3 linked regions of the Homo sapiens genome follow. The protein of the gene in region 1 interacts with the protein of each later gene in a pairwise test. Each region holds a gene or a part of one and is shown on either strand. Other genes may lie near its edges. The genes, in order: TAX1BP1, LRATD2 and TRIM45.

What was found.
Region 2: the proteins of TAX1BP1 (region 1) and LRATD2 interact in binary tests that used the Homo sapiens proteins (3 or more experiments, as listed by UniProt).
Region 3: the proteins of TAX1BP1 (region 1) and TRIM45 interact in binary tests that used the Homo sapiens proteins (3 or more experiments, as listed by UniProt).

The regions. Positions count from the first base shown.
Region 1 is NC_000007.14:27,743,020-27,746,770, forward strand, and holds part of TAX1BP1 (tax1-binding protein 1), read left to right. Parts: intron 1-3,751.
Region 2 is NC_000008.11:126,556,571-126,560,321, forward strand, and holds the start of LRATD2 (protein LRATD2), read right to left. Parts: upstream 1,909-3,751; 5' UTR 1,464-1,908; exon of another isoform or gene 916-1,463; 5' UTR 820-915; coding exon 1-819.
Region 3 is NC_000001.11:117,115,026-117,118,776, reverse strand, and holds part of TRIM45 (E3 ubiquitin-protein ligase TRIM45), read left to right. Parts: intron 1-9; coding exon 10-743; intron 744-2,031; coding exon 2,032-2,161; intron 2,162-3,087; coding exon 3,088-3,202; intron 3,203-3,751. UniProt on the Homo sapiens protein: E3 ubiquitin-protein ligase that plays a role in the regulation of inflammatory response.

The sequences.
Region 1 (3,751 bases):
TTATTTTGTCCCAAATAAACCTTTAGAAGAAGATAAAAATGTCCTCTACCCTAATATGTGTGGGCCAATATCATAGCATTTTAGAAACCAACTTATAAAAATCTAAAAAGTAAATAAAAGTGGTGCGGGTGATACCTGGGCGGAATGTCTTGGCACTCAGGTGTAAAGGATTCTGGAAATAGGGATGTCTGCAAGGGTGCAAATTAATAGACTGGGGCTTTTGCTGTTGCCTCCTAGAAAAATTGCTGATTACATTTTTTGGGAGCAGAGGTCTGTTGAGAGTTGTTAGTCTTTCTTTTTTTGAGCCACAGTGTGAATAATTGGAAACTATTTGAATGCTGGACATTTTTTCCTTTCATATGTTTGTGTGTCCTATCGGATTAAAGTTTGGAGATAATTCTAAAGGTTTTTTAGCTGAAGATGTGAAAAACTTTCAGTAACTCTATCAACCATTACCTGAATTACAACACTTCTAAGGGTACAAAGCGTTCATATTCTAAAATGCAGTGTTTCTGCTACAGTGGGTCATATGTGGAGTGTTACTAATCTGTTTCATTTCTTTATTTGCTTTGGTTTTACTATTACAGAAATTTTCAAACATACACAAAGGAGAATGAACAGTAAAATGAACCGACACTTTACTAATCTTGTTTTATTACCCCCTCTAACATTAATTTTTTCCCCTGGAGTTTTTAAAGCAAATCTTAGACATCAAGACATTTCACTTACAGTTAGTTTAGTATCTTTATTTTTTTTTTTTTTTTTTTTTTTTTTTTTTTTTTTTTTTTTTTTTTTTTGAGACGGAGTCTCGCTCTGTCGCCCAGGTCGGACTGCGGACTGCAGTGGCGCAATCTCGGCTCACTGCAAGCTCCGCTTCCCGGGTTCACGCCATTCTCCTGCCTCAGCCTCCCGAGTAGCTGGGACTACAGGCGCCCGCCACCGCGCCCGGCTAATTTTTTGTATTTTTAGTAGAGACGGGGTTTCACCTTGTTAGCCAGGATGGTCTCGATCTCCTGACCTCATGATCCACCCGCCTCGGCCTCCCAAAGTGCTGGGATTACAGGCGTGAGCCACCGCGCCCGGCCTAGTATCTTTATTTTTTATTTTTATTTATTTTTTATTTTTGAGACGGAGTCTCGCTGTCACCCAGGCTGGAGTGCAATGGCGTGATCTCAGCTCACTGCAGGCTCCGCCCCCCAGGGTTCACGCCATTCTCCTGCCTCAGCCTCCCGAGTAGCTGGGACTACAGGCGCCTGCCACCTCGCCCGGCTAATTTTTTGTATTTTTAGTAGAGATGGGTTTTCACCGTGTTAGCCAGGATGGTCTCGATCTCCTGAACTCGTGATCCGCCCGCCTCGGCCTCCCAAAGTGCTGGGATTACAGGCGTGAGCCACCGCACCCGGCCTAGTTTAGTATCTTTAAATGATAAAGACTAGAAAAACACAGAATCACCATAATTATATTATCACACATAACAAAATTACCTTATTTTTGAATTCTAATTGTTAGGACTGGCAAATTATATTTAGTATTTATCTAAATTAAAAAGCTTAATTTGGCTTCATATGTTTAATGTACAGAAGTTCTTACTATGGTCTATTTTTCAGTAAGTTCACTAAGGCTTACATTTTTGGGCTAAAGTAAAACAAGTATTGGGAACCACTGGAAAAATACTACCACAAAAGTCAAATCTGCTTTGGGCTTGAAAAAGTTACAAGAGGAGTAAGTAAAGATAACATTGAAATGCTTCCCTGCCCCCACCCCATGTTTATTTTAGCTGTATACATAACTGAGTGCCCACTATATATTATTTATCTTTTTTATAGACATTAATGCATTCGCAAAATAATAAAATTGGAATTTAGACCAAAGACTTTATAATATACAGTTTACAGCATAACACACATAAAGAAATTCTAGAGGCATTGGAACTTGGGGAAGTGTAGTAGGAAACCTGGAAGAGGGCACTGTAGCCAGCATGTATAAGCATTTCTGATTTTGTTTCCCAGCCAAATGTGTCTGGCCCCTTAATTGTTGACTGGACGTTTCATACTTATCCTTGGCTTGCCTACTTACTATACTCCTGTTTGTAGAGGTGCACTTTAGAGAAGGGGAATCAGAATTTGACATGGTAAAGCTGCTTGCTTCTACTTTCCTTTTTGTGTAGGGAGTGTACTTCTCTCCAACTGAGAGGAGGTTTGTACTTTTTCTCAGGATGTTAGTGAAGCTACACTTCCCAGGCATTACCACAAGGTGATGCAGTGACTTTGCATATTATTTCTCCACTCCCGTGCGACCTTGACATTCTCAGTGAATTCCAACATTTTTGTAAGCTTGCCTAAGTCTGTTATCTGTAGGAGGAGTGAACCAGAGGAACTATGTGGGAATTAGAAATTTTATTATTTAAAATGGGTTGATAATGACATAATTATATTTGATTGCATTCATCCATGTAAACTTTTTAAATGATTAGTAGCTATATTGTAATTTAATAAGAGTAAAAAATGACAAGGTACTGGAATGACTTTTGTAAAATATTTCTATAATTATAGCAATGAAATTTTAAAAAGATTGGAGTGTTGGAGAGAGATTAATGAAGGCCATTAATAGGATAATCACAAATTATTTTACTTTTCAGACTTGTAACCATTGTGAATACTATATTTTAAAGTGAAATACTAGTGTTTTCTATTAGAAAATGTGAAATTCAGGGGAGGGTTTAAAAATGGAATTTCTTGTTAATAGGGCTATTTAAAACAATAGAAATAATACATTTATATATACTTGTAAAAATTCAAACAATAAATTGATGTAAAATTTAAGGTCCTTAAGTCTTCTTTTTACACACATCCCTTATAAGACTATTAACTCTATAGTGTATACTTCTTGAGTTCCTTTTGATGCATTTGTAAACATATACAAATACATATATGTATACCTATGTGCTATTTTGTACCTCAAAAACTTCAGTGAACTAAAAGTATAAGGTTGGATTGTGGGTTTTTAAAAAACTGTTATAATTGAGGTTAACAGAAGTTGAAACACTTTTGCCTTGTTTTATAAAAAAAATAGTTACAGCTTTGTTGGTTTAATTTATTTTAGGAAATGATATGTTAAATTTTAAGAAAAAAGTATTATCCTTAATCAGCTTTTGATTAAAAACATGGGACGTTTATTCTAAGCTAGTTTATTTCCTTCTTACTGAATATCTTTCTTAAAGGAAGCGTGACTATTCACTCACTTCATAGAAAAATATTATTCTCTTAATTCAGTTTTGGTAGTTGTATCTAATAGATGTTGGTTCTGTTGATTTAGCTATAGTTTCTTTTGTTGGTGTCTTGTAACCAGTAGTGAGTTTTTTTTTTTTCTTTTTTTTTTAAAGAACTGGAATTGGTGTTTTTTTTTTTTTCCTTTGTGAAGCCAGTGACTTGAGATAATCATTAATGACTTCATTAGTATCATGACCTCCCTGGGAGCCCAAATTAGCTCAGACAACTCAAAGAAACAAAATAATAAAACTCTTCAGTTATTTTAGGCAGAGTTCTCCAGTGTTTGTAAATGCTACCTGTTCATTTTTCTGATGGCTTTAGGTTACCAGGTAGAGAGTATTCATAGTTAAGTCTTTCCATGAAATATGGTTGCTGGTAGCAAAGTCCCTTTATTAGTGCAGAGGTAAAGGGGGATTGCTACTGAATATACTCTTTATCTTGGAATGCTTGCAAACCTCAGGTAGGGAGAGGCTGACAACTAG
Region 2 (3,751 bases), on another chromosome or scaffold:
CAGGTGCGTGGCGAGCTCCTGCAGCACGGCCGCGCGCCCGATCTGGTCGTTGCGTCGCTTCTCCATGATCAGGTCCTCTAGACTCTGGAACTCGAGCGTGTGGCTGCGCTGCGCCGACAGCTGAATCTGCAGCCGGTAGGGCTGCTTGCCGATGCGCAGCTCGCCGCCGATCTTGAACTCGCGCTTGCCGTAGCGGCACCAGGCGGCGAAACTCTCCGAGTTGCGCCAGCTCAGCTCGCGCTCCTTGGCACCCACGTGCGCCAGCGCGTTGCGCACCACGGCGCTGGAGCTTAGCGGCTTGTAGCGGTACAGATCGTTGACCACGCGGCCGCGACGGCCCTGGCTGGCGTCAGTCAGGAAGCTGTTAATCACCTCCAGCCGGTGCAGGTGCACCACCTGGAAGTTACCCACATATACGGCCCAGTGCGGGTACTGAGCCTGCGACACGAACTCCACCAGATCGCCCGGCTTGCACTTGTTGAGCAGGTTCTCGGGCGTGTAGGTACTCAGCGCCGCCGAGCCCGGCGCGAAGCTCTTCTGGTAGATGCATTCGTCCCGGTAGAACACGGAGCATTCCACCTCGTGCAGCCGCGGATCGTAGGGCTGCGGCTGGGGCGGCGGCGGCCCGTCCCCACCGTCGGGCAAGCCGCCGCCATCTGGCCCCTGAGGCGGCGGCTGCGGCTCCACGTCCTCATCGTCATTGGAGAAAATGTAGGAGACCCCAATGCGGGGCCCGTCGTCCCGGTCCACGCCAGTCGGGTCGGCCGTGGGAACTTCCTTGTAACTTAGGTGGGTCAATTTCTCCACCTGGTTGCCCATCACGCTGCGGACACACGTTCACACCGCCGCAAGGGGAGAAAGCGAAACCAACTCCAGGGTCATTTGCACAGGTCCCCGGACAGGGGCTGAGGCTACCTGTTGGGAGAGGAAGGCAAGAAAGCCATGCAGGAGCCCCTCCGTGAAAAGGGCGTTTTGTTCCGAAAAAGAATCGGTGGGGGCTCAGCACCTGGAGCCATTTTAGGGGGAAGTCTCGGGTGTAGCGAGCTTTCCCTCGTTTCTCCACCTGTAAGGTCACGGTCACAGGAGACTGGGCAACTCCTGTTCTCCCTGTCCCCAGCCCTTCGCCTGGCCCTGGCAAAAGCCCATTGCATCAGCAGCTTCTACTGCTTCCGCCTGCGCCCTACCTGCCAAGCTTGGGCAGGAAGAGGGAAGGAAAGAGAAACTTTACGCCAATCCCCCCCCTCCTCTGCTAACTTCCCCTCCCACCCTCGGGCCCTAACTAGCCCCGGGGACGCCTCCTCCCCACCAACGCATCCATCCCCAGAGGAACAAGCGAGGATCTCAGAGCGCGACCTGGACAGGTGAGTCACCCTACCTGGCTCACCTGCAGCGCTACCTCCTCCCGGCTCGCCCGCCCTTCCCCCGCGCCCGCCCTCAGGCTCGGGTTACCTGCACAAACTCACCCGCGGAGAGGTGAAGGCCGTGGGGCCTGGGGAAGGGCTCCCTGCCGCGCCCCGAGACTTCTAGGGCGAGTTTGAAGGTGTAGGCTCGGCAGTCCCTCCTCTCCCGGCGCGGGCGGCAGCGAGGCTGGGCAGAGGGCAGCGCAGCGGGCAGACTAGGGGCATGTCTTTCCCCCGCGGCTGCGTAGCGCCCCGATACTTGAAGGCGGGGGGCAATCCCTGTTCACACCGCGCTTCCTCCCGCCAGCTGGGGCTGCTGCCCCTCCTCAGCCAGCTCTCGGGGGAGGTGGGGCGCGAGGAGGAGAGGACGGCAGCCTCGCAGCCTGGCGGCAACAGCTCCCGCTTGGGCCGGGCGAGCAACAAGCACCGGAGCTGGAGGGACGGGATTGTAGATCCGGCTCCGGGCTCCCGGGCGGGAGCGCAGCCCGTGGCATTTAAAGAGACAGGCGCTCACTCCCCGAGCTCGGGTCTTTTTCACATTGCGCCGAGCGGCCGGGAGCCCCGCCCCCGCCCCGCCCACTCGGGCCTCGGGACTCCGCCCGGCCACGCCCCCGCGCCGGAGCGGGTTTAAATCCCCCTGTAAATAATCCACCCGCCGCCTGGGGCTGGTGCTGTGAGCTCTGCTTGCCTTCCGAGACAAGTTAGAAGGCAAACACAACTTGCCAGTGTGGAAATGAGAAAGGGAAGGAGAGTTTGGTGTTTGCGCCTTTTCCCTTTGACCTGTTTTTTCCCAGAGTACCTGGAGAAGGAGGAACAGTCGTTTCTTTTCTTTCCTGGAACATATTTCTTGCCCTAAAGGTCACAAGAAAGGATTCTTCACCAGGACAGCTCGAAGAGTGCGTCATCCTAGAGGTGTTTTCAGAGTTAGTAGTGGGAAACTTTGGGGTAGAAAAGAAAATCGCAGAAAAGAAACAGTATAAAACAGAACGAAGACTTATTCACTGACTGGGTCCCAAGACCACCGCTCTGTTTATTAGATACCCCTGGAAGTTAGTACAAAGTTCATAACCTCCGTTATTTCCAGAGAGGTACCAGTTCGTTGGATAGTGAGAGAAGCGTGCAGCTCTGACTGCTTTTTTTTGGGGGGGTGGGGGGTTAGGGGATGTAGGAATTGCCTAATTCCTACATCCTAATTCTAATTGTCCTTAAATTAGAAACAAATTAGCAGAGGCCCTAGTGGATATATTTCCTTCCTGTTGACTTAGGGAAGTGACAGGAGACCAGTAATGCCTACTAACCTCCACCACAAAAGGACACTTCCACCTCTCCACTGGTTTCGTTTCTTTTACCTAAATGTAGGCTACCAAAGTGTTTTTTTTGTTGTTGTTGTTGTTTATTTTTTTAAAATAATGGGTCCGGTGAGGGTGGAGGATTAACAGCTCTGTTTACAATAAACAAGTTTAGGCACTACTGCAAGCACCCAGACTTATTCGTAGGGGACTTAAGAATGCGATTCAAGACCTATATTCTGTCTTCAGTTGCTTTCTTTTGACTAATTTTTTCCAGCATGTATAACCAGCCAGTGGAAACAGGAATATACTAGCACTACTGTGATCCTTTCTAGTTTAGGAGAAAAAAATAAAAATCATTCTACTTATGTAATTTTGAGTCCAAACAATCAATATTGGCAGGGCTGTGATAGAAATTAGTCCTTCAGCAAGTCTGAAGTATAAGTTAGATCAACATGAGACTACTGTGTGCTGTGCGATTCTGTTTCAATAATTTCAGACTGGCTGGCCTCAGGCGCATGTGACTGAATGAATCCAACACACCCCAGTCCTTTTGATAGCAAATGGTGTGGGGGGCTGCTGTTACCTGAGTGATATTTGTTGCCATCATATGATCACCATATTATAGACAAGAGTTAGGCTTATAGAGATTATGGCTGGTCATCCTATGTTCATCAGATTGGGAGACCTCTGCTACTGCCTGATTTGGGAGGCCACTTTGCTCCTAGGTGCTACTGGGATGGCTGGGAATGGGAGAATTGAACTGAGAGGACACAGTTGTAGGACAATTTGCTACCAGCACTCTAGGTCAGAGATCTGGTGGGTGAGGAAGCAATGCCTAGCTGACTAGGTGTGTCTCCTTTTGTCTTGATGAGCTGTTCTCAGGTGCACAATAGTGGCTCAACAACATATCTTGAACTGACCAACTATAAAGCCTCAGAGGGAACAAGCCCTGATCCATTTTATATCTGAATGCCTGGCACTGAGTGGGTACTCAATAAATGCTTGATGGATGCCTTAGGGGAAAATTTGGCCACAGGTCAAGAATTGCTTCCTGGTTTT
Region 3 (3,751 bases), on another chromosome or scaffold:
TGCCCCTAGGCGGCAGAAGAAAACGACTTACCACACCATGGTGGACCTAAAAGACTTGAAAGGCTACAGCCGGATTGGGAAGCCCATCCTGTGTCCTGTTCACCCTGCAGAGGAACTGAGGCTGTTCTGTGAGTTCTGTGACCGGCCCGTGTGCCAGGATTGTGTGGTGGGGGAGCATCGGGAACACCCCTGTGACTTCACCAGCAATGTCATCCACAAGCATGGGGACTCTGTGTGGGAGCTCCTCAAAGGTACTCAGCCCCACGTGGAGGCCCTGGAGGAAGCCCTGGCTCAGATCCACATAATAAACAGTGCCCTCCAGAAGCGAGTGGAGGCAGTGGCAGCTGATGTCCGGACATTCTCGGAGGGCTACATTAAGGCCATTGAGGAGCATCGGGACAAGCTGCTGAAGCAGCTGGAAGACATACGGGCCCAGAAGGAAAATTCCCTGCAGCTGCAGAAGGCCCAGCTGGAACAGTTACTGGCAGACATGCGGACTGGAGTGGAGTTCACCGAGCACTTGCTGACCAGCGGCTCAGACTTGGAGATCCTCATCACCAAGAGGGTGGTGGTAGAACGGCTCAGGAAGCTGAACAAAGTTCAATATAGCACCCGTCCTGGAGTAAATGATAAGATACGCTTCTGTCCTCAGGAGAAAGCAGGCCAGTGCCGTGGCTATGAAATTTATGGTACGATTAATACCAAAGAGGTTGATCCAGCCAAATGTGTCCTACAAGGAGAAGGTAGGAAGGCATTTCCCATTGACATTGAGAGGGCAGTGGACAGGGAGGTGGTGTGTGAAGATTGGTGGCTTGTTCTGCTAGGAAGCATGCCCTACTGACCAGGTTACCAAAGGTGGGGAGATAAACTGATCTGAAAGACAGTGACCCCCACCTTTGCCCTTTCTGGTTTGTTCTGGCTAGGGTACAGTTAATACAGGAGTGAGGCTTGACCCTTTTCCAGTTCAGAGAAGTAATAATGGCTGAGAAACACACAGATCATGTTTTGTTTCTATCAGATGGCAGAACAGAGACAGTGCCCGTTGGAGGTAACAGCAGTGACTAGGGCCAGGTGAAATTCTGCCTGCTCAGAGAGGAGCATGGCAGGCCCTGGATTCCTAGATCAAGTTCTGAAGGGAGTTTCAGAGGAATGAGGAAGATGAGATTACGGTTTCCTTTCCTTTAGGCCCTTTTTGGTTCACATCAACTTTACTGGCATTTAAAAGGATATGGTAGGTGTTTCATTTAATTGGGGGAAAAAATGGTTTTTTTTAACGAGTGTTCCCTTTCTAATGGAAGCATATTATTAAAACATATGTTTCACAGGTCAGTAGGTCAGTCCTGATAGGAAGATTGCATCTTAATGACACAGGCATTCTTAACTGTTTGGAAGCCATAGATCTCTTTGAGAATGTTCTCTCCTACAGAAACACCCAGTAACTTGTGCATACAATTCCAGATTTTTAGACTCTTCATAAGCCTTTCCATAGACCTCATAGTAGTTCATGAACCTCAGGTTAAGAAACCCTGTTTCATCTGAATGCTGGAGTAGGGGCTGTAGCTACTGGATATCCCCCCAGTACCTTGGCATGAGCTACCAAGTTGCAGAGGATCTCAAAACATGGAGGGTCGTGAGGCTGGTCAGCTGTACTCCCTGCCTAGCCCAGCAGGATCTGGAGCTTAGGGAGGGTGGTTTTGGGGTTACTATCCTCTCTCACAGGGTCTAGAGGTTTTCTTTAAATACCTCGGTCAGTCGTGAGTATTTTTAAAGCATAGGACCTTCAGTCCTAGGACTGAAGGTAAGGTCCAGGATCCTGTGTGATCCAAAGCAGCTGCTAGCTGAGAGAACCAGGCCAACCAGGAAGGACTCCCAAGAGGCGTACTCTGGGAGGCAGAAGGGGAAGAGAAAACAAAGGGACCCAGGGTGGTTACAGTAAAGTACAACCCTTTGTTCTGAAGAGAAAAAGCAAGATGGAGATGTAGTCACTGCAGTTTACATTCGAGGTGAGGACCGAGTGTTTATCTTTTTCAGACCTCCACAGAGCCCGGGAGAAACAGACGGCCTCTTTCACCCTGCTTTGTAAGGATGCCGCAGGAGAAATCATGGGCAGGGGAGGAGACAACGTTCAAGTTGCCGTTGTCCCTAAAGATAAGAAAGACAGGTTTGTATGACACAATTAGGTGTCATGGATAACAGGCAGTGAGAAAACTGGAAACATGAGGTCCTTTAAGATATTGGAGCTGGGCACAGTGGCTCATGCCTGTAATCCCAGCACTTTGGGAAGTGGAGGCAGGAGGATCGCTTAAGCCCAAGAGTTCAAGACCAGCCTGGGCAACATAGGGACACCCTGTCTCTACAAAATTAAAAAAAAAAAAATTAGCCGGGAGTGGAGGCATATGCCTATAATCCCAGCTATTCAGGAGGCTGAGATGGGAGGATCCCTTGAGCCCAGGAGGTCGAGGTTGCAGTGAGCTGTGATTGTGCCAGTGCACTCCAGCCTGGGCAACAGAGCAAGACCCCAGGTCCAAAAAAAAAAAAAAGATATTGGAGTGTAACTCACTAGTTACGTCTTACCTCCCCATAATACTATGAAACGTTACGTGACCAAATGTGTTTTCTTGTGTGGGTTTTGTATTCAATTCTCTCTCAAAGCTATGGTCTGCCCCTCAGATTGTTTTCATCTCAAGCTTTAGAATAAGTTGAAAAATATTCTGTGTTAGACTGAATGGTACCCTTTTCAAAATTCAGTCTCCCTTTGGTACTAAATTATGCCTGGAGCATGTTTATATTTCTCTGGAATTGTAGAATGGAGGAGGGACAACAGAGCAAGAGGGTTCAACAGAAGCCTGTTGAAAAGGACACAATAATATATTCAAGGAATTTGTCTGAATATCAGACTAAATTGGAATTTATGCTGTTTACCTTCTGTTGTAAAATTAACTTCTGAAGCAAATGGAAGAAGCATCCTGTTTGGGTATATTTAACATTAATACTGAATGGGATGGTGTAGAGTTTACATTCTGAAATAGTAGCAACTGAAGCCAGCTTGTGGAAGTGAGTGGTGTTTTGACTCTTATCTCCATTCAGCCCAGTCAGAACAATGGTCCAGGATAACAAGGATGGGACATACTACATTTCCTACACCCCCAAGGAACCTGGCGTCTATACTGTGTGGGTCTGCATCAAAGAACAGCATGTGCAGGTAAGACTGGTGCACGTGCTTCCCTGAGCTCCCTGGATTCTACTGTCTTAGGATCTGGAGACATTTCACATAGGATCAGCTATACAGAGAGATTGAATAGAATCCCCATGTCTTCTTCTTCACTTTAGAAACAGCCCAGATTTTGCTACTCTTATTCTTCCTGGAGGATGCTGTTGACCATAAGAACCCTGTATCCCTGTGTCACCTCCAGGCAGTTATGCTTATAGCTTATCATTCTCCCAGTTGGTTTCTTAGGATTCTTAATATGGAGAAGATGTCTTGATCACAGGGGGTGATCTGCCAGCAGACAACCATGCATATTCAAAAAATATAATCTAGCTCAGGATTTTCCAGTTTTGTCCAGACTGTGTCTGGACATGAACACAGTTGAGAGGGTTATGCCCCCTCCTCACAATTGACTAGTCATCTATCTGCCTAACCATCTGCTCATGTAATTTTCTACTCTGTTTTACATATAGGTTTTTCTGTTACTATGGTTCCTATAAACAAACAAATATACCAAACAAGTTACGTTACCATGGTTTCTAC